Linked DNA regions of Homo sapiens. The protein of the gene in region 1 purifies or fractionates together with the protein of each later gene. This does not show direct contact. Each region holds a gene or a part of one and is shown in the gene's direction. Other genes may lie near its edges. The genes, in order: SLC37A2, PLXNB2, COX15, ATP8A1, AGPAT2, ADCY3 and CA2.

Region 1 (3,500 bases):
GAGTGAGATCGTGGGACAGAAGAGAAGAACGAGGGCCGGGGCCCCCATGCCCTCAGTGTGGCTAGAGCTCCCATCGGCACTCACTCAGGGAGCTGGGCAGGCGGAGCGAGACCACAGGCCCTGCAGCCACCTGCTTGACACCATCCAAGGTCTCCCACTCCTTGCTGACTTGGGGCTTTGGGGCTGTCTTTGGTGCCTCGGGGAAGCTGTAGTCAGCCCAGCTTTAGAGCTTGGCTGGGGCAGTTGCTATGAACAATGTGCTTTGCTTTTTACTTTTTATACCTCTTCCCTTCTCTCCCTCCCTTCCAGGCGGGGGTTCATCATGGGCATCTGGAATTCCCACACATCTGTGGGCAACATCCTGGGCTCCCTGATCGCCGGCATCTGGGTGAACGGGCAGTGGGGCCTGTCGTTCATCGTGCCTGGCATCATTACTGCCGTCATGGGCGTCATCACCTTCCTCTTCCTCATCGAACGTGAGTGGGCCCCTCACTCCCCACAAGTGAGCCTAGAAGTTCTCGGTTTCTGGGAGAAGGCAGCTGGATCTACTGGAAAGATTGCTGGTCACAGAGTGGGAGGACCAGCCGTGTGACTTTGGACAATCTTTCAGAGCCTTTATTTTCTCATTTGTAAAATAATAATAGTAATAATAATGTCTATTTCGTAGGATTTCTGCAGGCTTAACTGAGACACCATAGTTAAAATGCCAGGCCCACAGGAGGTGCTTGGCAAGCATTGGTTGAATCTGAGAGGTGTGATCAGGGAGGGTGGAGTTGAAGGGACATTGTTACAGTGACCAGGCTCTCCACTTGCTGCAGGTGGTCTTGTGCACTAGCCAGGCCAGGTATGAGAGCCACTCTGTAGCTAAGAGTACTAAAGTCCAAGAGGCAGTAGTGACACTGCTGGTTGTTAGGAAAGCCAGGCCTAGAAAGCTGTCTCCTGAGCCCCAGGCCCCGCTCCCTCCTGCTGGGACACACACTGGCCACCTTAGGAGCTGGAGGCGGGGCTGGTTCCCGGGATGGCTTAGATCCAGTGCAAGGTGAGGGCCTGGCAATCACCTCGGGATTGGGGGGGCGGGGGTTGGGAAACTTCTTAGAAAGCGATTTTTTTTTCTAGACCCAGAAGATGTGGACTGCGCCCCTCCTCAGCACCACGTGAGTGTGAGCCCTCCCAGCCCTATCCCTGCCCTCCAACTCCATCCAGAGGGCTGGACCCGGAGAGGCCTGGGGAGCTAGAGCAGGGAGTTCTGGCCCTCACTGACCTCACCGACCCAGTGCTAGGCCCATGGGTTGGCCCTACAGCCTGATGAGTCTGGCAGGTCAGTCCAGCCCGAGACGAACGTGTGCCTCCCCATCCTGGGAGCCAGTGTCTCTTGCCTGGGCTGCACCTTCAGCTGGTGGGAGGCAGCACATGGACGCACCCACAGCAGGGCTCATCTCCTCTGCTCAGGGTGAGCCAGCTGAGAACCAGGACAACCCTGAGGACCCTGGGAACAGTCCCTGCTCTATCAGGGAGAGCGGCCTTGAGACTGTGGCCAAATGCTCCAAGGGGCCATGCGAAGAGCCTGCTGCCATCAGCTTCTTTGGGGCGCTCCGGATCCCAGTAAGAAGTTTGTGGAATGGAGGAAAGAGAGGGGCTTTCCAGATTTTTTCTGTTGGTGATGAGGAGATGGGGTGCTTGGGTGATCTATTTTTCTAGAACTTCTTTATAGGGGAGGTGTAAGTTGGGCAGCCTGCTTGGGGAGGGCAGTGTGGGAGATTTGTCTTGAAACAACCTTGCACAGTGGTCATGTTGCTTTTATTGGGACTGGATGTGTTGGAGGCTGCCTTGTGTGGCAGGTGATGGAAAGTACTGGGGTGGTGCTGAGCACCCCTTGGGGCCACCACTGAACCCAGGACCTCTGGACCCCTTCCCATGTGCCCCCTGTTGCACTCCCCAGGGCGTGGTCGAGTTCTCTCTGTGTCTGCTGTTTGCCAAGCTGGTCAGTTACACCTTCCTCTACTGGCTGCCCCTCTACATCGCCAATGTGGGTAAGTCCAAGAGAAGGGGAATGAAGGGGTCTCTGAGGAGGCCAAGGCTGCCTCTGGTGGGAGAGGAAGCCCGTCGTGGTGATGCCTGTGATTCCAGTATATAGGCAGAATTCCTGCTGAACCTCTCCTAGAGTGAAAGGAGCTTGATTTAGTTGTTTACTTAAATGAAAGCTAAACCCAGCAAACTACCCCCTAGACCCTGACTCCAGCCACCTTTTCTCCCCTTGGAACTGAGCTGGGGGTTAGGAACTCAGAGCTCTGTTCTGCAATTCTTGCTATCTTCTTCTCTAGCCCTTAGTGTAGGAGAAACCCCCTCCAGGCTGCTTGGCTCATAGGTGGTAGCATTGGAGGTGCTAGGGAAGGCCTGCCTGCTAGATCTCTCCCCCAGCCCAAGGAAGAGGGCCTGGTGAGTGACCCCACTCCTTGTAGCCTGGTGGTGACCCTGGTGGTCTTCTCCCCGTGGGACCTAATGTGATCGATGCCCCTGTGCCTGGATCTGCTGGGCTGCACTGGTGTTCTGTCCTGTCTCATGGACCTACTCCCGTCTGCTCCTGCCCAGGGATGTATAGATGAGAAGAGCTCATTTGAAAAAGGATGTTTCATGTCCACCTGGCCTGGGTCTCTGCTTTTCCATAGGTCAGGCTGCTCTACCAAACAGCAGCCCACCCCGCCCTGCCCAGCCCCCAGGAGCCTCCAAGCTCCACCAGGGCTGAGGGCCTGTCACCCAGTACTGCTGCCCTCCCTCCCAGCCCTGGGGAGGAACAACAGTGCCTTGCCACACATTGTGCTCGCTCTGAACAGGATACTGTAGGAATTAGTCATGGCCAAGTTCAAGCCATAGCTTGCCCCGCAGCTCTGTCGGGGCCTCTCTCGTGACAGTGTGGAGCACTAGGGCAGCTTTGTGGACACCGTGACTCTTTGTTTTGTGGCCTTGGTGCTGACTTCAGAGTATGAGGCACCCTCGAGGGTGGGGCTACAATCTCAGCTTCTGGACATTCCTTTTTTAAAACATGGAGCCAAGGCCTGTGACCTGAGGCCCCTGTGTCCCTGCAAGTCTCCTTCCTGGCTCTGTGTATGAGCACAGCCTAAGGTAAACGGGAAGAGTTCCTAGTGCTGCTAGGGCCGGAGTGAAGCAGAGAAAGGGCTGGGCTGAGCTTCAGGTTGCGCTCCAGGGGAAAGGTGGCCACGGGACAGCAGGCTCGGGGGCCAGATCCCAGAGCTTGCCAGGGAGGGCTTGTTCTGAGAGGTGAAGGTCATCCTGCAGGGGAAGAGGGCAACACAGGACGGGACCAAGAGGGCGTCTATCCAAACTGCTGCATTCTCACCCTGTGGCCCTGGCCAGCCTGCTCCACAGGTCCCCAGCTCTTCCTCGGAAAAGGGGGCAGTGGTCTGGATCACGCTCTGCAGGGCTTCTAGCTGTGACACTCCAGGATGTTTGCCCCAAACCCCAGGTCTGACCACATACCTGTA
Region 2 (3,500 bases), on another chromosome or scaffold:
CCGGAACTGCTCCTTTCAGCCGGAACGTTACTCCGTGTCCACCCGGTGAGTGGACGGCCCTGGTCTGGGCCCTGTCAGCTGGGTCAGTACCCACGCTGGGGTTCCGGGTGACTGGGTGGGTGGGGAGGCTGAGGGGGTGAGGGTGTCAGGGTGTGGGGTGGGTCGGGGAGTGCCTGGGCCACACTGCCTGTCGCCCGCCAGGATCGTGTGTGTGATCGAGGCTGCGGAGACGCCTTTCACGGGGGGTGTCGAGGTGGACGTCTTCGGGAAACTGGGCCGTTCGCCTCCCAATGTCCAGTTCACCTTCCAAGTAAGCACCCGGCCTCGGGGACCTGCCGAACCCGGGAGGACCGGGAGGAGGGGCTCTGCCCGCCGCCTCCCCACGACAGTTACCATCCAGCCCAGGACCGAGGGCGTCCTGTGCCCCGTCCTCACCCGAGTGCCCCTGCGGCTCTTTCAGCAGCCCAAGCCTCTCAGTGTGGAGCCGCAGCAGGGACCGCAGGCGGGCGGCACCACACTGACCATCCACGGCACCCACCTGGACACGGGCTCCCAGGAGGACGTGCGGGTGACCCTCAACGGCGTCCCGTGTAAAGTGTGGGTGTCACCGCCAGCTGCTGAGTCTGGTTGGCCCTGGCCCTGGGTATGGAGGGGGGCACTTACTGAGACCTGAGTGGCCCTGAGGGGATGGCGGGGCCAGCCTGGTCGGGCTGGGGCTGGTCCCGGGGGAGGGGTTGATGCAGACCAGCACCCTCCCTCCCCCAGGACGAAGTTTGGGGCGCAGCTCCAGTGTGTCACTGGCCCCCAGGCGACACGGGGCCAGATGCTTCTGGAGGTCTCCTACGGGGGGTCCCCCGTGCCCAACCCCGGCATCTTCTTCACCTACCGCGAAAACCCCGTACTGCGAGCCTTCGAGCCGCTACGAAGCTTTGCCAGGTGAGGCTGGTGTCCCCCCGCCCCCCTCTGCTCCCCACACCCAGCTGCCTCCTCAGTGCCCTTGGCTGACTGTGCTGAAAGGAATGTGGTGGGGCTGGTCTGTGCAGCGGGAGGCGGCCTCCGGAAAACCCCACTGCACTCCAGATCCACTTCCTCCTAGAAACCCAGATGGGCACACCAGAGGCTCCACGCTCACCAGGCCCCGTGTGCCCCCCGCCCACTTGCGGCACAGTCTCGTGCTCAGCACGTCCCACCGCGTTGCCCCTTTGCCCACCGAGACCCACACATGCACCTGGAAGCCCCGTGTGGTCAGGGCCAGGGTGGGCGGGGACGGGAGGGCGGAGGCTGCAGGGACCACCCCTGCCAGCCGAGCCCACGAAGGCACTGCCCTCCGCAGTGGTGGCCGCAGCATCAACGTCACGGGTCAGGGCTTCAGCCTGATCCAGAGGTTTGCCATGGTGGTCATCGCGGAGCCCCTGCAGTCCTGGCAGCCGCCGCGGGAGGCTGAATCCCTGCAGCCCATGACGGTCAGTCCTGGCGTGGGCTCAGCTCTGGCACCGGCCCATGGGATCGTGCCCAGGAAGGGCGGGGTCTGCGCCCGGGGGCTGACAGCTGGGACTTGCCTGCAGGTGGTGGGTACAGACTACGTGTTCCACAATGACACCAAGGTCGTCTTCCTGTCCCCGGCTGTGCCTGAGGAGCCAGAGGCCTACAACCTCACGGTGCTGATCGAGATGGACGGGCACCGTGCCCTGCTCAGAACAGAGGCCGGGGCCTTCGAGTACGTGCCTGACCCCACCTTTGAGAACTTCACAGGTGGCGTCAAGAAGCAGGTCAACAAGCTCATCCACGCCCGGGTGAGGACGGTGCAGCCCCGGGTGTCTGGGTCCTGCTCGGGTCTGGGCTGAGAGCTGGTCCACCTGTCCCTGGTTCCCTCCTCCTCACCCCGACCACTGCCGCCTCCCCAGGGCACCAATCTGAACAAGGCGATGACGCTGCAGGAGGCCGAGGCCTTCGTGGGTGCCGAGCGCTGCACCATGAAGACGCTGACGGAGACCGACCTGTACTGTGAGCCCCCGGAGGTGCAGCCCCCGCCCAAGCGGCGGCAGAAACGAGACACCACACACAACCTGCCCGAGTTCATTGTGCGTGAGCGGGGACTGGCGGGGGGTGCCCCCACGGGACCGCGCTGAACCCGGCCCCCCACACAGGTGAAGTTCGGCTCTCGCGAGTGGGTGCTGGGCCGCGTGGAGTACGACACACGGGTGAGCGACGTGCCGCTCAGCCTCATCTTGCCGCTGGTCATCGTGCCCATGGTGGTCGTCATCGCGGTGTCTGTCTACTGCTACTGGTGAGCCCGCCCCCCGGCTGTGCCAACACCCTGAGCCCTCGGCCCTCCCGCCTCGGCCCCTCTGGCCTCATCCGCCGCCCTGCACAGGCAGGCGTGTAGATCCACCTCCTCATCCGGGCAGCTGAGCGGCCAGCCCCGGCAGAACCTAGGAGGCCCGCTGTGCCTTGCAGGAGGAAGAGCCAGCAGGCCGAACGAGAGTATGAGAAGATCAAGTCCCAGCTGGAGGGCCTGGAGGAGAGCGTGCGGGACCGCTGCAAGAAGGAATTCACAGGTAGGGACCGCTTGGGGGCTGGTGCTGGGGCGCCTCCTGGGGCGGGGATGCTGTGTGTAGCGTGGGGGTCAGGGCCCCACGTGGCCAGGGACGTCTCACGCCAGCCTCCCCCCAGACCTGATGATCGAGATGGAGGACCAGACCAACGACGTGCACGAGGCCGGCATCCCCGTGCTGGACTACAAGACCTACACCGACCGCGTCTTCTTCCTGCCCTCCAAGGACGGCGACAAGGACGTGATGATCACCGGCAAGCTGGACATCCCTGAGCCGCGGCGGCCGGTGGTGGAGCAGGCCCTCTACCAGTTCTCCAACCTGCTGAACAGCAAGTCTTTCCTCATCAATGTGAGCCAGGCGTCGGGCGGGCGGGAGGGCACACAGGTGGCGCCGGGCAGGCTTTGACCGCCGGCCCCTACAGTTCATCCACACCCTGGAGAACCAGCGGGAGTTCTCGGCCCGCGCCAAGGTCTACTTCGCGTCCCTGCTGACGGTGGCGCTGCACGGGAAACTGGAGTACTACACGGACATCATGCACACGCTCTTCCTGGAGCTCCTGGAGCAGTACGTGGTGGCCAAGAACCCCAAGCTGATGCTGCGCAGGTGCACATGGGCGGGGCCACGAGCGGGGCCACGGGCGGGGCGGCCGCAGGGGCTCTGGGGCTGGTGGCGGGTGGCACAGCGGCCTGTTGGGCCCCCAGGAGCCGGCAGGTGCCAGCCAGCGCTGGTGGTGGGGGGCGGTCTAGGGGTGGTGTCCCCGGCCACAAACTCAAAGCCGGACTCTAGCCCTTCCTGTCCAGCGGTTTCAGCTGGTCACAGTGTCAGCCCTCTGCAGAACAGAAGGAAGGTGGCACACTTCCCACAAGGGCTGGAGCTGCCACCAGGTAGTCCTCGCTGCAGGCCACACCCAGGCTGGACAGGGGCGAGGCTGGCGCAAGGGTGGCC
Region 3 (2,380 bases), on another chromosome or scaffold:
GTATATCCATACTGTGCGATACTGCACAGCAGTTTAATAAGATCTCAATACATAGTGTATATTGCTAAGTGAAAAAAAGCAAGTGACAGAACAATATGTTTTTTAAAAGCACAAAACTATATATTTATTTCTCTATAAACATACTAAAGTACAAGTATGCAGAAACTGGTAACAGTGACTACTCTGGGGAACTGGGATGGATTGAAGAATAAGGGGAATTTTAGGTTTATCAATTTTGTTCGAATTTCTTTCATTGTAAGCATATTTGCTTGTGAAATTAAAAATGTGTGTATTTTAAGTGCTCTGATAGGAGGATGTGGAGGTTTGTGTGTGGTTATCCACGCCTGGCCATTTTCAATGTGAACTTTGGGTTACTGCCTTTCCTATTGCCTTCTTTCCTTTGTGACAGGTGGGCTTGGGCATCAGCACGCTGCTGATGTATGTCCCAACTCCTCTGGCCGCCACTCACCAGTCAGGCTCCTTGGCTTTGCTCACTGGTGCTCTTTGGCTGATGAATGAACTCCGAAGAGTCCCAAAATGATTCTTAGAGGACCAGCCTCCTGGGACTGTGACTGCTTTTGAGAGCTCTTCAGAGATCATAAGAACTTGGGCTTTTCTACGAGATGACCTTGACATACCAAGTGGTTTCCAAATGGTCAACTTACTTAAAAATCTTTTCCTGTTTTGAGATAGTCACTGGATCAAGAATGCATTAAGTGTGGTTACCCTAAATGTTCCCTTTTAAATCTGCTTTTCATGTTGAAAATCAGTTTTAATGTAGAGAAAGAAATGTCTGCCATTTGCTGCTTAACAGGCTTTGTGTCAGGTTTTTCAGTGTTGGCAAGCTCTTGGTTCTACGTGGATGATTTCTACGTGGATGTTCTCCTGAGTCCTTAATTCTGCCTAAATAGAATTTCTTTATGATCTTAACTTCACTTCCATTAGGTGAAGATTGAAAGGATAGGATTGACATACCCAAAGTAGCCAGCTGGTCTTCAGCAAAAAAAAAAAAGCTAATGTCTTCTAATATCCTGATTTTCAGAAATGGGGAAATTGCAGATTTTGACAAGCTTAATGTGTATATGTAGCAAAATGGTTTTTAAGTACTTGGAAAAGGAGGTAATCGCCAAATAGTTCCATTTTTTTTTTTTTTTTTGAGACAGAGTTTCACTCTTGTTGCCCAGGCTGGAGTACAATGGCGTGATCTCAGCTCACTCTGCAACCTCCACTTCCCAGGTTCAAGCGATTCTCATGCCTCAGCCTCCCGAGTAGCTGGGACTACAGGCACAAGTCACCATGCCTGGCTAATTTTGTATTTTTAGTAGAGAAGGGGTTTCACCACATTGGCCGGGCTGGTCTTGAACTCCTGACCTCAGGTAATCCGCCCATCTCGGCTTCCCAAAGTGCTGAGATTACAGGCATGGGCCACCACGCCCAGCTAGTTCCTCTTTTGATAAGGCTGTTAACATTACAAGGTCAGAGAGAGGAATGGAATCGACAGTATAAATTGGTTCCTGAGAGGGTTTCCTAACAGCTTTGTAATAAGAAAAATATGGCCTTGATGGTGTAGTGCATGGACATCTACCCAGATAAACAAATTGTTGACTGCTGAATTAATGTGATTTTGGTCTCTATTGATATTTCATAGGGCCCTGTCTTATTCAACTTTACTTTTAAAATCAGTGATTTGGATGAAGGCATCAGAAACATCTGATTTGAGGATGGAGCAACCCAATATTGCTAATATAATAGATGACAGTGGCAACTGAAAACAGTCCCAGAATGACCCCATCGAGATGAAATTAAACAGATTAGAAATGTAACATACTCATTTAAATTAAATAAGTTGTATAAGTTTGGGCTGAAGAAACCTGGCCTTATATCATTTCATATAAAAAAGACGGGATTTTAGTTGTCCTCAGGTTCAATATGAACCAAGTAGTATTCATGTTGTTATTATATGATAACAGAAAAATTAGTGGTACTTCAGGTTTTATCAGTAGAAGTGTCACAGCCATAGTCAAAATACCCCTAACATACTGCATTTCACTCTGGGTACCAAATTTAAGCAAGATATTGATGGCCACTAAGTGTGTATCCAGAAGAAGAGATCAGAATGATGAGTCCAGAACCCCTGTCACACAGGGAATAGGTGAAGGAACTAGGGATATTTAACTGGAGCAGAGAACATCTGGAGAGAGAGCAAGATTCCTGTCCTTGAGAAGTTGAAGCCGTCTCATGCAGAAGAGGGAATGAGCTTCCATTATGCTGCAGAGCTGGCAGCAATGGATGAAAGTTGCAGGAAGTTAGTTTTAGTTCTGTAGAAGGCAAGAGTAGGGTAGACCAAATCAAATGCTCACTGGGGTCAGGCTGATGGAGA
Region 4 (3,500 bases), on another chromosome or scaffold:
TGTGGGGCTGTAACTGACTGTCAGTTTATTGGCTGTACCACAAGGTAACCAACCATTAAAAAACTCTAAATGATATTTAGTTAAAGGGACTCTTGGTATCCAGACTTAGATTTCAGGATATGCTGAAACAAACCAGCATTCTTAAGGAACTGACTCACCTTCCTGAGCAAAATTTCTAAACAAGCATTTGTGTCCAAAATTGTCTTGATAAATGTTTGCCAAAGAGGTTCAGTAAGTGTTTTTCTAGTTCAGTAGTCATATGCCCAGAAATGTAAGAGAAAGTTTACTTCCAGTTCCGCTGTAAGATCTGCATGCCTGACTTTCCAAATGTAAGAGTGATTTACAAAAATGAATATTTCAAGGCATTTGCTACTAAAATCGGTGATGTTGCACCTTTGGCCTTACAAATGCTTCTTTGTTGTTTGTCGTGTTTATTTGTTAGAGGACACACGTGTTAATGTGACTCTGTTGTTATGACACTGATTTTTCAAACTATGTATGTTTCAGGTATTTCTGATGAAGTTTCATCATCATTTAGATTTTTCTAAAAATCTGGCTAATGCAGTAGATTGAGTGATGTCATTTTGTCTTAAAGTTTTTCCTCTTAAGAAACATATGCTACGTATTTACGTGGGATTTCCAAAGCTTCTGTTGCAATATTTGGAATAACATGTCAGATAAATGCATGGGCTTTTGTCCTGTGTTCCAGTTCCCACTAGAGATGCCTGTGTCTTGTGTAGCACACCCAGTGTTATGGTGACTGCCCCCTATACTGAAGACTGAAAATTATTTCACAGTTCACTCATCAAATAGTTCCCAAAATTCGTCACATGCTGCTTATTGGGACAAATAGGTAGTACATTTTCCCCATTTAAAAAATGCGGATTTTACTCAGGCCGGTAACTTTACAGTCAGAGGACACGTTCATCATGAGTAGCTTTTGTTAGTATGTTTTAAAATGTATCTTCAGTTCAATTATTTTCAGCATTTACAAGACATCTGAAAATGGCTATTTTGCTACCAACAGTAAATGAAGGGGCTGTTTAAAAACCACAACCAGTTTTCTACACTATTTTTTAAATAATACTTTCATTTGAAAAAAAGGAATTAGTTTTCAGATACACTTCAGAGATTGAAGCAAACTATTTGCCTTTTACTCAAAAGCCTGCTTGCCTTTACATGGACTTACCAGCAAAATAGGTAGAACTTTCTCTTTTAAAAAAAGTCAACTAGAATTGAGAAGAGGTGATTTTTTTTCAGATCGCTTCTCGAGTTTAATATTTTCACATTCTTTTCACCCTTTTTCTCAATCTAGATTTAAAATTAGGATATATGTCATTTCCTTGTCTGTATTTGTAGCTCCTTAGTTACCAGTATGCCTCTCCATTTTCTACAAATAAGAGGTTATAACACATATACATAATTCTAACCTTAAGGGAACACACGTTTACATACTTTACTTCCCAAGCCCTTCCTGTTTGGGGTACAGATTGAGAGAGTCATGAATCAACACATCTAGCAAGACCACAGGTGTAAGAGTCTAAGATCGTCTTCAAAATTCTGAAGTCCCAGTCTTTACCTGTCCAGTGAATGAATATTCAGAGCAGCTTTTCCTGGGCTTCCCAGTGGTGATAGCTGAGGTCAAACCACAAAAAATAAGAAAGCAAGAGTGAAATGCACCCCTCCAGAGAAACACTTTGTAGTGTTTAATTCTGTTAATAGAGAAGAGCTGCTTCTGTTTGCGCTCACTTCATCAGTGGCACCCTTCTGCAGAATTTTAATATAAAAACATTATGGATATAATAGAACTGGATTTTCTGACTTAAAAATGTAAGTTTTATTTTAATCTTGAAACGTGGATTGTTTCTGTGGAGCTCTTAAACATGAGAAGAATACTTACGGTTGATAATGTGTAACATGATCTGAAATGTGACTAATTTGAGCCTCTTTGTCCCATCGTCCTGTTTTTGAATTATTGACATTGTCAGTCTCTTTGCTTCCTGGGTGAGACTTGGGGTTTGAGGGACAGGGAATGACCTTCTTGGTGAAACTTAAAATATAACATTGCAATTGCAGTGACTTTACAGTGTTAAATTAGAGAAAATAGTCTGATTTTTTAAACCTTCCTTAACTGGAAAAAAGTCACATGGTTTTACCAGGATTGAAATAAACAGTCAATGTGACTTTTAACATGTGTTTTTTTGAAATAAAGGGCACGTACTCTTCAATTAAAAAGTTCCTTATAGGGACTCTGGCAAATGCTAACACAGTTGCTTTACAATGTTTACAATTCAGACAATACGACTTATAATAGAAAATCCTCATTCATTTAGCATTGAAAAGCTGGAAGTTGCTTCTTTAATGTTGAATAGTATACAGTGGTATTGAGCATGGACTTTCTAAATGTTTTATATATACATATAAAAATATATTGGTGTCTCACACCCAGAAAGATGTTATATTGTAGATATTATTAGGAAAACAGTGTTTCTCAGGAACGTTGTAAATTTTAAATGATATATGTACTTCCCGTCCTCCCACCTCCACTCTGTGCTCTAATGTGAGACTGCTTCAGCAGTGTTGCTAAGTTAATGGAAAACTTTTTCTAATCAAGTCAGGTGAATGTGTATTCTGCTAAATAATGTTAGCCATTTACATGAATTGTATGGTCATTAAATGGAATCAGTGATTCCTCTTTAATTTCCAGAGGGGAAATGAATTATGGAAATCAGTCAGCATTCTGATCATTAAATTTTATACTTTAATTTTGCCGTTCAGCATTCTAAATATCCAATGTGAAAGTCACATGATAATTTGTTTTGCATTGCGTGCACTGTACAACACTTACAACTTGTCATTTAAAATGTTTTCTCGGGAAATGAATGCTAGTCAGAAAGTAATAGATTGTATTATTCATAGTTTTAAAATTATGACAATGTCATAATTACTACAAAGCTAAATAATCGTGTTTATTTTTGTGCAGTTGCCCTTTGATAGTTCCTGGTTTTAAAACCTATTAAGTGTATAATCTTACAAATAGTCATCTACAAAATTTATGGAGAAAGTGCCCAGCCCATTCACATCACATGGACCAGGAATTCTTTTGTAAATGACTTAAGGTAACATCATGCAGTTCAGTGCCTAATAAATGCTTTTTAATGATGAACATTTCTATAATGACTCGTAAGATACCATAGTCTGATTTTTCTCACATTAAAATAACTGAAGTCACTTGTGTAACGTAGTTATACTTTGCTGCATTTTAATTAACCTTCAACAGCTATTAAAGTGGAATGTAAGTTAAATTTTGAAGGAAAGGAAATAAATGTTTTCCATATTTCGTCTTGATTTACTTTCTGTATGAGAACAGCTGTGTTTTTGATAGGTTTATGGTTTGCATGAGTTCATATTTAAAGTGATCCAGGCCAATGCATGGCTATTGCTGTAAATCTTGATGTTTATTTCTGCCTTGTAAAGTTCTATCACGGCCTACCTGGAAT
Region 5 (2,407 bases), on another chromosome or scaffold:
CGTCTCCAACCACCAGAGCATCCTGGACATGATGGGTAGGCCGGGCCTCGGGGGTGGCTTCTGGGGTTTGAGTGGGGCCGGCTGAGCTGGGGCTGTGTGGGGCTGGGTCCCGGGGACGAGGACACAGGGCTGCCTGTGCCTGGGCGAGCTCGGCCTCAGTACCTCCCTCAGGGCCAGACACAGAGGCTCGGAGGCCACACGACCCGTCCAGGTAGCCAGGGAGAAGGCAGGGTGCCAGGCAGGCCTGTGGGTGCTCAGCAGCTGTCTTCCAGCGCACGCTGTCTCCCCCTCTCTCTCTGTCTCTGTCTCTCTGTCTCCCAGGCCTCATGGAGGTCCTTCCGGAGCGCTGCGTGCAGATCGCCAAGCGGGAGCTGCTCTTCCTGGGGCCCGTGGGCCTCATCATGTACCTCGGGGGCGTCTTCTTCATCAACCGGCAGCGCTCTAGCACTGCCATGACAGTGATGGCCGACCTGGGCGAGCGCATGGTCAGGGAGAACGTGAGTGTGCAGGGCCGGGCTCGGTGGGGTTGGGGTGGGGCCTGGGCGGGGCCAGGCAGGGGCCAGCTTGTGACTTGGTTTTGGCAGAAAAAACAAGACCCCCACATCATCCATGCTCCGCAGGTGGGGTCCCACGCCAGACCCCTACATCATCCATGCTCCGCAGATGGGGTCCCATGCCAGCTGCTTTGCGAAGTGGGGCTTCTTAGGAGGCGAGGCGGCGTGGCCTTTCTGGGGTGGCCTGGGCGTGAGGTCAGTCCAGGCTCTCCTCTCCCTGCAGCTCAAAGTGTGGATCTATCCCGAGGGTACTCGCAACGACAATGGGGACCTGCTGCCTTTTAAGAAGGGCGCCTTCTACCTGGCAGTCCAGGCACAGGTAGGCTGAGCCCAGCCCTCCCTGGGTGGGTGCAGGCTGGGGAGGCGGGGTCAGGCTGGCTTAAGGCAGCAGGTGACCACCAGCCGAGCTGAGGACCCTTGACACACAAGGGACTCCTCCCACTGAGTTGGGGACAGGGCCTCCTTGCCCCTTCCTGCACTTGCCCCCTGACCGACCAGGGAGGGCAGCCCCTTGGGCCTTTTGCCCACACAGAGCCCAGAGTGACCAGCTGCCCTTGGTGGGCACCCAGTGCTTGGCCTGCGAGGCTGGGCAGGTAGAGGGGTGGGGAGCCGGGCCGCTCGCCTCTGCTGCAGAGCTCTCAGGAGGCTCATTTCTGGGCCTGTGCCTGGCTGGGGTGGGCTTCAGGGCATGGGCAGTGGGTCTGGACAAGCCAGGCTTTTGGTGTAGTATCAGGCCAGACCAGAGCTCAGGGTGGGTGGAGCTCATTGTAAGCAGCGCCTCCAGACTCTGGACTTCCTGGTCCCCAGCCTCCAGGGGTGCAGTGCATCCTAGGGTGTCTGGGAGAGGCCAGGGTATAGCCATTCCCCCAGCACCTGTCCTGCCTCTGCCGCTGTGCTGGGAAGAGTTGCGTCAGGAGAAGGAGCTTTTACCCATCTGGGTGGGGTCTCGCTCAGGGCAGGGGTCTCAGCTCCTTCCCTCACACTGGCCACTAGTGGCCCCCAGTGCCTGGCCCTGTGCAAGGTGGTGGGGAGGGGGCCCTCCTTCCAGAGGCTCCCAGCTAAGGCCGTGAGGCCTGGGGAGCCCCGGAGGCGCTGGGCTGGGTGAGCATCCTTGGGCTCTGATCCCAGCCCTGCCCAGGTGCGGGGCACACCTGCCCAGCCTGGGGCTGATGTCACTTCCCTTTGGGGGCAGAGTGAGGGCTGGATCAGCTCTGGGAGAGCAGAGGGGAGACGGGCGGCTGTGATGGGGTGGCTGGGGGTGGCCGCAGTGCAGCTTCAGCCAGGAGACCCACAGCTTTTCCGTCCCTGCTCCCGGTCCCCAGCCTACCTGCTGGCCCCCTCCCTCCCTGCTGCCAGTCCCCAGCCTACCTGCTGGCCCCCTCCCTCCCTGCTCCCAGTCCCCAGCCTACCTGCTGGCCTCCTCCCTCCCTGCTGCCAGTCCCCAGCCTACCTGCTGGCCTCCTCCCTTCCTGCTGCCAGTCCCCAGCCTACCTGCTGGCCCCCTCCCTCCCTGCTCCCAGTCCCCAGCCTACCTGCTGGCCCCCTCCCTTCCTGCTGCCAGTCCCCAGCCTACCTGCTGGCCCCCTGGAGGTTCCCTGGCTGCCTCGGGTTAATGATCACCCCCAAGTGCCCTTGGATTTGACCCCGGTGACTTCCAGGAACACCAGCAGGCTCCACCCCTCCCCCGGGCTAGGGCTGCCTCCCTCACTGGCTTCCTGAGATGGAGAGGACTGGGAGAGAGGCGTGGGCAGGGAAGAGTGCCATAATCTCCTCCTAAACCGGACAGGGCCCTGCCCCCCTGGCTAGCTGCAGACCCAATATGGGGACAGGTGTGAACCAGGCAAACACGTGCT
Region 6 (3,500 bases), on another chromosome or scaffold:
TGAGCTCTAGGGCTGGGGTGGCAGGAAGCAGCACCATCTAGTTGGAGGGAATCAGGCCCCCTCCAGGAGGCAGATGACAGCCCTTTCAGTTGCACACGCTCTGCCCAGCAGGCTGCCCCTGGTGCCTTCCAAGTACTCTATGACGGTGATGGTGTTCCTCATGATGCTCAGCTTCTACTACTTCTCCCGCCACGTGAGTGCCGCCTGCACGATCCCCGCTCTGTGCCCACAGCCCACAGGGCCTCCTGAGAAGCAGCCCTGGGACCTAAGAGCCCAAGCTCCTAAGGAATGGGGCTTCCCTTCACCCAGCCCCACACGTGAGCCTGGTCAGGCCACCGCCTTCTCTATTCAGGCTCCTTCCTCAGTCACACAGGAAGACAGTTCCTCACCTCTTCCGTCCGACCCCCTCCAGGATGGTGAAGGAAGCATGGGAGTGAAGGTGGGAGGGGATAGAGTGAAGGCACAAACATCTTGAATCAAATCAATATCCCCTAGGCCAGGGGCTCATGGCCCCCGCACTCCCCGTGGCGCTGAGGGACATTAACACAACTGACCACAGAGCCAGAAGAGAAAGAGAAGGGAGCTGATGGACTTTCTGTTGGGTTAAAAGGAAAAGAGAAGGCCGGTGCAGTGGCTCATTTTGGGAGGCTGAGGGTGGAGGATCACTTGAGTCCAGGAGTCTGAGACCAGCCTGGGCAATATGGTGAAACCCTGTCTCTACTAAAAAATACAAAAATTAGCCAGGCATGGTGGCCCGCACCTGTAATCCCAGCTACTTGAGAGGCTGAGGCAGGAGGATTGCTTGAATCTAGGAGGTTGAGGCTGTAGTAAGCTGAGATCACACCACTGCACTCCAGCCTGGGTGACAAAGTGAGACACCCCCCCCGCACCCCCCCCCCCCCCGCCACAACCACCGCACTCAACCGGACAAAAAAGGAAAAGAGAAGGAAGAGAGGGAAGAGAAAGATCCTCTGTACTTAGGGCCCAATGTTAGTTCAAGTGCCCCCTACTGGCTTTCCAGGGAAGTACAGCCTTCCCAAGCCACTTCTTACCCAAATGGCGCCTGCTAGAAAGGGGGACTCCACCCTGAGTTGGGAGATCCCCACTGCTGCCACCTCCACGAGACAGACCTGCAGCTGAAATTAGGTCCCAAGAGGCCCCCTACACACGGAAGGCCTCCTGGATCTCTGCTGTAATTACGGAGGCTGGGAACCGCACCACTATTGGGTGGCCTTTTGATGAGGTGCAATCTTTGCAGGGTCTTACTTCCCTTGCCATTTAGCCATCTTCCTTCCAGCCTTTCCAAGGGGAGTTCCTCCATTCACGTTCCTGTTTTTCTTCTTTTTTTGAGACTGAGTCTCACTCTTTTGCCCAGGCTGGAGTGCAGTGGTGCGATCTCGGCTCACTGCAACCTCTGCCTCCTGGGTTCAAGTTGATTCTCCTGCCTCAGCCTCCCGAGTAGCTGGGATTACAGGTGCCCGCCACCATGCCCGGCTAATTTTTGTATTTTTAGTAGAGACAGGGTTTCACCATGTTGGTCAGGCTGGTCTCGAACTCCTGACCTCAGGTGATCCGCCTGCCTCGGCCTCCCAAAGTGCTGGGATTACAGGCATGAACCGCCACGCCTGGCCATTCCTGTTTTTCATCCTTCTATCCAGTGGCCAGCTTAGAGCACATGCCTCGCCTTGTCTGTGTCTGTAGGTAGAAAAACTGGCACGGACACTTTTCTTGTGGAAGATTGAGGTCCACGACCAGAAGGAACGTGTCTATGAGATGCGACGCTGGAACGAGGCCTTGGTCACCAACATGTTGCCTGAGCACGTGGCACGCCATTTCCTGGGGTCCAAGAAGAGAGATGAGGTGAGGGGTGTGGTCTCAGCCCGGAACCATGAGGCCATTTGTCTCCATCTGTTCTTTCTTTCAGGCAGCCCCCGCTGGGCCCAGGCCTTCTCAGGGACAGGGGACTGGGGCCTAGGTAGGGCTGAACCTAAACAGCAAACACAAATAAGCAAAAGAGGAATTTCTCCGGCCTCTTATAAAGTGCACTGCTGTAGGCATCGTGATGTGGGCCGTACAGCTCTGAGGCCATGTGTCAGAAGACAAGACTTTGGCTAGAGCCCACCTTTCTGTTGCCTGTGAACTTCTCCAAACAGAGTGGTTCCCAGCTCTACGGTACCCTCGTCTTCACAGCTGGGGCTGTTAGAGGAACTAGAGAAGCTGTTTTAAAATTTATTCAAAGTAGTGGCCGGGCACAGTGGCTCATGCCTGTAATCCCGGCACTTTGGGAGGCCGAGGCGGGTGGATCATCTGAGGTCAGGAGTTTGAGACCAGCCTGGGCAACAAATAGTGAAACCCTGTCTCTACTAAAAAATACAAAAATTAACTGGACGCGGTGGTGCACACCTGTCGTCCCAGCTACTCGGGAAACTGAGACAGGAGACTCACTTGAACCCGGGAGGTGGAGGTTGCAGTGAGCTGAGATTGTGCCACTCAACTCCAGCCTGGGTGACACAGCAAGACTCCATCTCTCAAAAAAAAAAAAAAAAAGTAGCGATGAGCTATTTTTAAATTATTCAGAGTTGGAATAATCTACAGCCGGGCATGGTGACATGTGTCTGTGGTCCCAGATACCTGGTGTTCAAGGCCGCAGTGTGCTTCGATCATACCTAATTGTGCTTGTTTACTGCCACTGCACTCCAGCCTGGGAAACACAGCAAGACCCACTCTTAAAAAAAAAAAAAAAAATGCTGGAATAATCTGACTGATGTGTGAGTCCAAAAAGCTGAGTGCACATGTCATGCATGGAAGATAGATGCATTTCTCCAACACATCATCCAGTCAGTCGGACATGCTTTGAGCACGTTGTCCGCACCTCTTTTTAGGAGCTGTATAGCCAGACGTATGATGAGATTGGAGTCATGTTTGCCTCCCTGCCCAACTTTGCTGACTTCTACACAGAGGAGAGCATCAACAATGGTGGTATTGAGTGTCTGCGTTTCCTCAATGAAATCATCTCAGATTTTGACTCTGTGAGTGCCCATCCCACCCTGCACTCTGGCCATGAAGCCGGCCCATTCCACATCACATCCTACAATAGGCTGCAGAGGCCAGAGAAACTGGCTTCATTTTCCCAGATAAGCCCCTTCCGCAATACATGGACTTCTGCAGCCACCTGGAACTGCTGGGCTGGGGAAGGGGAGGTGAGGTGGGAGCCCGGGAAATCACCCACAGGGTCACAGGATAAGGATAAGGACTGGCCAAGCAACATCTCGAGACCTCTCTGTCCTGGGACTGTCTCCTCAAATTCAGAGCCGGTCAGCATTGACTGGGTGACCTGTATACCAGGGAGAATGCTTTTACACACGCGCGGAGCCCCCCTAGGAGACTGCCGATTTTATGTCAGTGTTGAGGTTGTGGAAACAGGCCCAGAAAGTTAGGAAGTTCTCCCAGGATCATGTGGCAGATAAGCGGTAGACTAAGTAACAACTTTGATAGGAAAG
Region 7 (3,500 bases), on another chromosome or scaffold:
TCCAACTCCACCATTTGCAAAAAGTAAACGGACTCAAACTGGAGGATCCTGTTTTAACAGAAATTTAGAAATAAAATGTGTGCCTTCTGTCAAAACTGTACATTTATTTGTCTTAGAGTTATTGATGAAAACACTTGCTGTTATACCAAGTACTGTGTGGATGATTAGAATTAAAATGAAAGGAAAATTTTGATTTAAAATTATCCATATTTTCAATTTCCTGAGTAACCTTTATTGTGAGAAAAAGACCATTGAATAAAATCTGTCAGCTTTGATTATGTAAATCACTCACTGTGGCTTTGTCTCTTCGGCCTTAGCTTCACTTGGTTCACTGGAACACCAAATATGGGGATTTTGGGAAAGCTGTGCAGCAACCTGATGGACTGGCCGTTCTAGGTATTTTTTTGAAGGTTAGTTGATGACCCAATTCTTTTTTTTCCCTATTTTTAATAAAGAATGACCAGACAGAGTATTTGTAACATACAGGACATTCTACAAAAGAGCTTAGGAAATGCCTTTGTCCCTGAAATGTTTTCAAGTTTATCTCCTCCTTTCATATCTGCTAGTTGCAGTGGAGATGGAGGGCAGAAAGACAATAGGAGAGGTACTTATTTGGTACCTTTTGGATGTAAATGTGAAGAACATAAAGAGATCAACTTGGGTGACTGCTAGGTGTTTGTTTGTTTTCTTTTCATTTAACCTGAGGCTAGACAGTACTATATTATGATAAAGTAAGATCAGGTTCTGAAGAGGGGAAGGACAGTGAATTTCAGGCAACAGTGGGACAGAACCGGTTGAGCTGCCCTCTAAACAGTGGTAAAGGGGAATGGAGAAAGGTCTGGGCTGGAGATTTATGAGCTCTGATTCATATGTTGAGGTGGAAGCTACAGGTGTGTATGAAATCATCCAAGTACAGCACGAAGAGGGAGATGAGAAATCTGCCCAGGGAGCAATCCTGAGAAACTGCAAAATGTAAGGCCTTTACAAGGGGAGAGATGCAAATTAAACAACTTAAAAGGGGCCAGGTGTGGTGGCTTAAGCCTGTAATCCCAGCACCTTGGGACACCAAGGCAGGAGGATAGTTTGAGGCCAGGAGCTCAAGACCAGCCTGGGCAACATAGCACAATTCCATCTCTACAAAATTTTTTTAAAAATTAGCTGGGCATAAAAAACAAACTAACAAACAAAAAAACAAAACAAAAACAAAAACACAAAATTAGCTGGGCATGGTGGTATACACCTGTAGTTTCAGCTACTTGGGAAGCCAGGGCAGGAAAATCACTGCAGCCTAGGGGTTGAGGTTGCAGTGAGCTATGATCATGCCACTGCACTACAAGCTGGATGACAGAGCAAGACTCTGACTCTAAAAAAAAAAAAAAAAAAAAAAAAAGCGAGAGTCAAGAGAGATTTGGGTTGCTGGAAGGCGTAGGGAAAGCCAAAGAAGAAAATAATTTTTAAAAAGAAGGGAAGACCATAGTGTAAAGTCCTACAAGGAAATCAAGGCAAGCCCTTGAGGAGTATCCTTTGGCAGTTAGAGGTCACTGGGGACAATTGAGCTGGTGGTTTCAGGACTACTCTCTGAGTGGAATTAGAGGCGAGTTGAAGATTCAGTGAAAGTAGGCAAGTCTATGGTGTCAGTGTCATCAAGCCAGTACTGATGGGGGTCATGTATGAAGTGGAGAATTTGGGCTCACTATTTGGATGTTTTCTAATAGAGCTACCCAAATAAAAATAAAAACTGGTACAGTACCAACTGGGTGATAGTATCTTGCCCTTTATGTTTTTCTTTAGGTTGGCAGCGCTAAACCGGGCCTTCAGAAAGTTGTTGATGTGCTGGATTCCATTAAAACAAAGGTAAATTTGAATTTTCTGCCACCTCCTTAGGGTACCAATTTTCAATACTCCATTGGTTTTAGAAATTTCTTTTGATCAAATTGCACAGTCTCAATGACATGTGGTGTTTGGATGAGCAGTTAGTAAAGGTAGAATATTACTTAAATATTTAATTAACGTTTCTTTCAACAAAGTTGATCCTAATGCTAGCATAATTCTAAGACTTGTATTTATTTAATCTTGCTCCCCCATCATTTGGACATCCATATGTAAGAGTCAGAGAATCTTATGCCTGCAAGGAGGTTCAAAGGTCCTCTAGTCAAATTATTCACTCATTCATACAGCAGATATTTGTTAAGTATGTACTATGTGCCAGTCGCTTTGCAAACTAGTAGACACAATGGTGAACAAGATAAACAAGGCCCTGTTTCATGGAGATTTCTATTCTATGACCTCTTTGCATTCATCCATCCTGCATTTAAATCCTCTCTGCAGCATAGTTGTGTTGAGGTCGTTGAGCATCTGTTTAAACACTACAGTCACTTCCGGTGATGGGGAACTTATCACCAGGGGCAGCCCTGGCTTTATAAAGCTGATCTTCACATTGAAGCAGCATCTATCCTCTGAAATGCTCACTCACTGGCTTGAGCCCCTTGAATTCATAGAATAAACCTGATCTCTCTTCCAAATAACTCTACTCTGTCTCTACTTTGTTTTTTCACCTACCCCAAACTAATTATCTTTAGTTTCCTTTAACTATTCTCATATGATATAGTTTTCTCTCTTTGCCACCACCTTGTCATTCTTCCAGTAAATCATTCCTGTTTGCTTGAAAAGTGTAGTGTCCAAAACAGAATGTAGTTATTTGATTCTGACCTAGAGCAAGAAAATCACCTCCTCATCAGGATACCATATTTCTGTTATTGCAACTTGAAGTCACCTCATTTTAGTGGCAGCAGTCTCACTTTAAATACTGGGTGTGATCAGCTAATGACTTAATGGGGAATGTAAGGGATCATTTTAGATAAAAGGCCAAGATGAAAAATGGACATGTGAAAATAGTTTTTTTTTTTTTTTACTACGACTTGCCACATATTTTCAAGTTGAATGTCTTCTGTTAATTTCTCTTTATTTTGTTTGCCAGTGAATATAGAACCTCTTTTTTAAAAAGTGTTTTTGACCATCAGAGGGGAGTATACCTATTTGTGTCTGCTGCTCTCCTACCTTCCTCCTACTCTGTCAATGTGATAGTTTGAAGCTGCGTATTTGCCTTGTTCTAGGGCAAGAGTGCTGACTTCACTAACTTCGATCCTCGTGGCCTCCTTCCTGAATCCTTGGATTACTGGACCTACCCAGGCTCACTGACCACCCCTCCTCTTCTGGAATGTGTGACCTGGATTGTGCTCAAGGAACCCATCAGCGTCAGCAGCGAGCAGGTTTGTTTTGTAATGACAGGTCTGTTTACGGGTGGAGCATTTAGTCAAGGCAGAAGACCTTGGCCTCCAGAGTGAGAGAGAACTGAGATTTAATCCTTCTCCTGCTACTTCTTGCTATGGAAATAGTGCCTTTGATGGTGCCTAGCAAATAAACAGCGTTCAGTAAATCTTTGTTGTTATTAACTATAAACTTAGTTCGTTTAGTCTCTAAAATTGAATAGTCATTGTAAG

The links.
Region 2: the proteins of SLC37A2 (region 1) and PLXNB2 purify together in Homo sapiens (affinity purification with mass spectrometry; one large-scale study listed by BioGRID and IntAct). This does not show direct contact.
Region 3: the proteins of SLC37A2 (region 1) and COX15 purify together in Homo sapiens (affinity purification with mass spectrometry; one large-scale study listed by BioGRID and IntAct). This does not show direct contact.
Region 4: the proteins of SLC37A2 (region 1) and ATP8A1 purify together in Homo sapiens (affinity purification with mass spectrometry; one large-scale study listed by BioGRID and IntAct). This does not show direct contact.
Region 5: the proteins of SLC37A2 (region 1) and AGPAT2 purify together in Homo sapiens (affinity purification with mass spectrometry; one large-scale study listed by BioGRID and IntAct). This does not show direct contact.
Region 6: the proteins of SLC37A2 (region 1) and ADCY3 purify together in Homo sapiens (affinity purification with mass spectrometry; one large-scale study listed by BioGRID and IntAct). This does not show direct contact.
Region 7: the proteins of SLC37A2 (region 1) and CA2 purify together in Homo sapiens (affinity purification with mass spectrometry; one large-scale study listed by BioGRID and IntAct). This does not show direct contact.

The regions. Positions count from the first base shown.
Region 1 is NC_000011.10:125,080,305-125,083,804, forward strand, and holds part of SLC37A2 (glucose-6-phosphate exchanger SLC37A2), read left to right. Parts: intron 1-309; coding exon 310-476; intron 477-1,116; coding exon 1,117-1,154; intron 1,155-1,449; coding exon 1,450-1,602; intron 1,603-1,939; coding exon 1,940-2,030; intron 2,031-3,500. UniProt on the Homo sapiens protein: Inorganic phosphate and glucose-6-phosphate antiporter. May transport cytoplasmic glucose-6-phosphate into the lumen of the endoplasmic reticulum and translocate inorganic phosphate into the opposite direction. Independent of a lumenal glucose-6-phosphatase.
Region 2 is NC_000022.11:50,280,147-50,283,646, reverse strand, and holds part of PLXNB2 (plexin-B2 isoform 3 precursor), read left to right. Parts: coding exon 1-45; intron 46-201; coding exon 202-310; intron 311-460; coding exon 461-597; coding exon of another isoform or gene 598-643; intron 644-765; coding exon 766-936; intron 937-1,096; coding exon of another isoform or gene 1,097-1,333; coding exon 1,334-1,463; intron 1,464-1,565; coding exon 1,566-1,793; intron 1,794-1,904; coding exon 1,905-2,081; intron 2,082-2,147; coding exon 2,148-2,287; intron 2,288-2,457; coding exon 2,458-2,558; intron 2,559-2,673; coding exon 2,674-2,903; intron 2,904-2,976; coding exon 2,977-3,158; intron 3,159-3,500.
Region 3 is NC_000010.11:99,712,748-99,715,127, reverse strand, and holds part of COX15 (heme A synthase COX15), read left to right. Parts: intron 1-409; coding exon 410-541; 3' UTR 542-1,163; coding exon of another isoform or gene 1,164-1,322; 3' UTR 1,323-1,648; coding exon of another isoform or gene 1,649-1,714; 3' UTR 1,715-2,380. UniProt on the Homo sapiens protein: Catalyzes the second reaction in the biosynthesis of heme A, a prosthetic group of mitochondrial cytochrome c oxidase (CcO). Heme A is synthesized from heme B by two sequential enzymatic reactions catalyzed by heme O synthase (HOS) and heme A synthase (HAS).
Region 4 is NC_000004.12:42,409,106-42,412,605, reverse strand, and holds part of ATP8A1 (phospholipid-transporting ATPase IA), read left to right. Parts: 3' UTR 1-3,500. UniProt on the Homo sapiens protein: Catalytic component of a P4-ATPase flippase complex which catalyzes the hydrolysis of ATP coupled to the transport of aminophospholipids from the outer to the inner leaflet of various membranes and ensures the maintenance of asymmetric distribution of phospholipids.
Region 5 is NC_000009.12:136,675,051-136,677,457, reverse strand, and holds part of AGPAT2 (1-acyl-sn-glycerol-3-phosphate acyltransferase beta), read left to right. Parts: coding exon 1-35; intron 36-321; coding exon 322-497; intron 498-777; coding exon 778-873; intron 874-2,407. UniProt on the Homo sapiens protein: Converts 1-acyl-sn-glycerol-3-phosphate (lysophosphatidic acid or LPA) into 1,2-diacyl-sn-glycerol-3-phosphate (phosphatidic acid or PA) by incorporating an acyl moiety at the sn-2 position of the glycerol backbone.
Region 6 is NC_000002.12:24,822,738-24,826,237, reverse strand, and holds part of ADCY3 (adenylate cyclase type 3), read left to right. Parts: intron 1-108; coding exon of another isoform or gene 109-111; coding exon 112-193; intron 194-1,701; coding exon 1,702-1,860; intron 1,861-2,882; coding exon 2,883-3,029; intron 3,030-3,500.
Region 7 is NC_000008.11:85,474,007-85,477,506, forward strand, and holds part of CA2 (carbonic anhydrase 2), read left to right. Parts: intron 1-317; coding exon 318-410; intron 411-1,791; coding exon 1,792-1,854; intron 1,855-3,113; coding exon 3,114-3,269; intron 3,270-3,500. UniProt on the Homo sapiens protein: Catalyzes the reversible hydration of carbon dioxide. Can also hydrate cyanamide to urea. Stimulates the chloride-bicarbonate exchange activity of SLC26A6. Essential for bone resorption and osteoclast differentiation.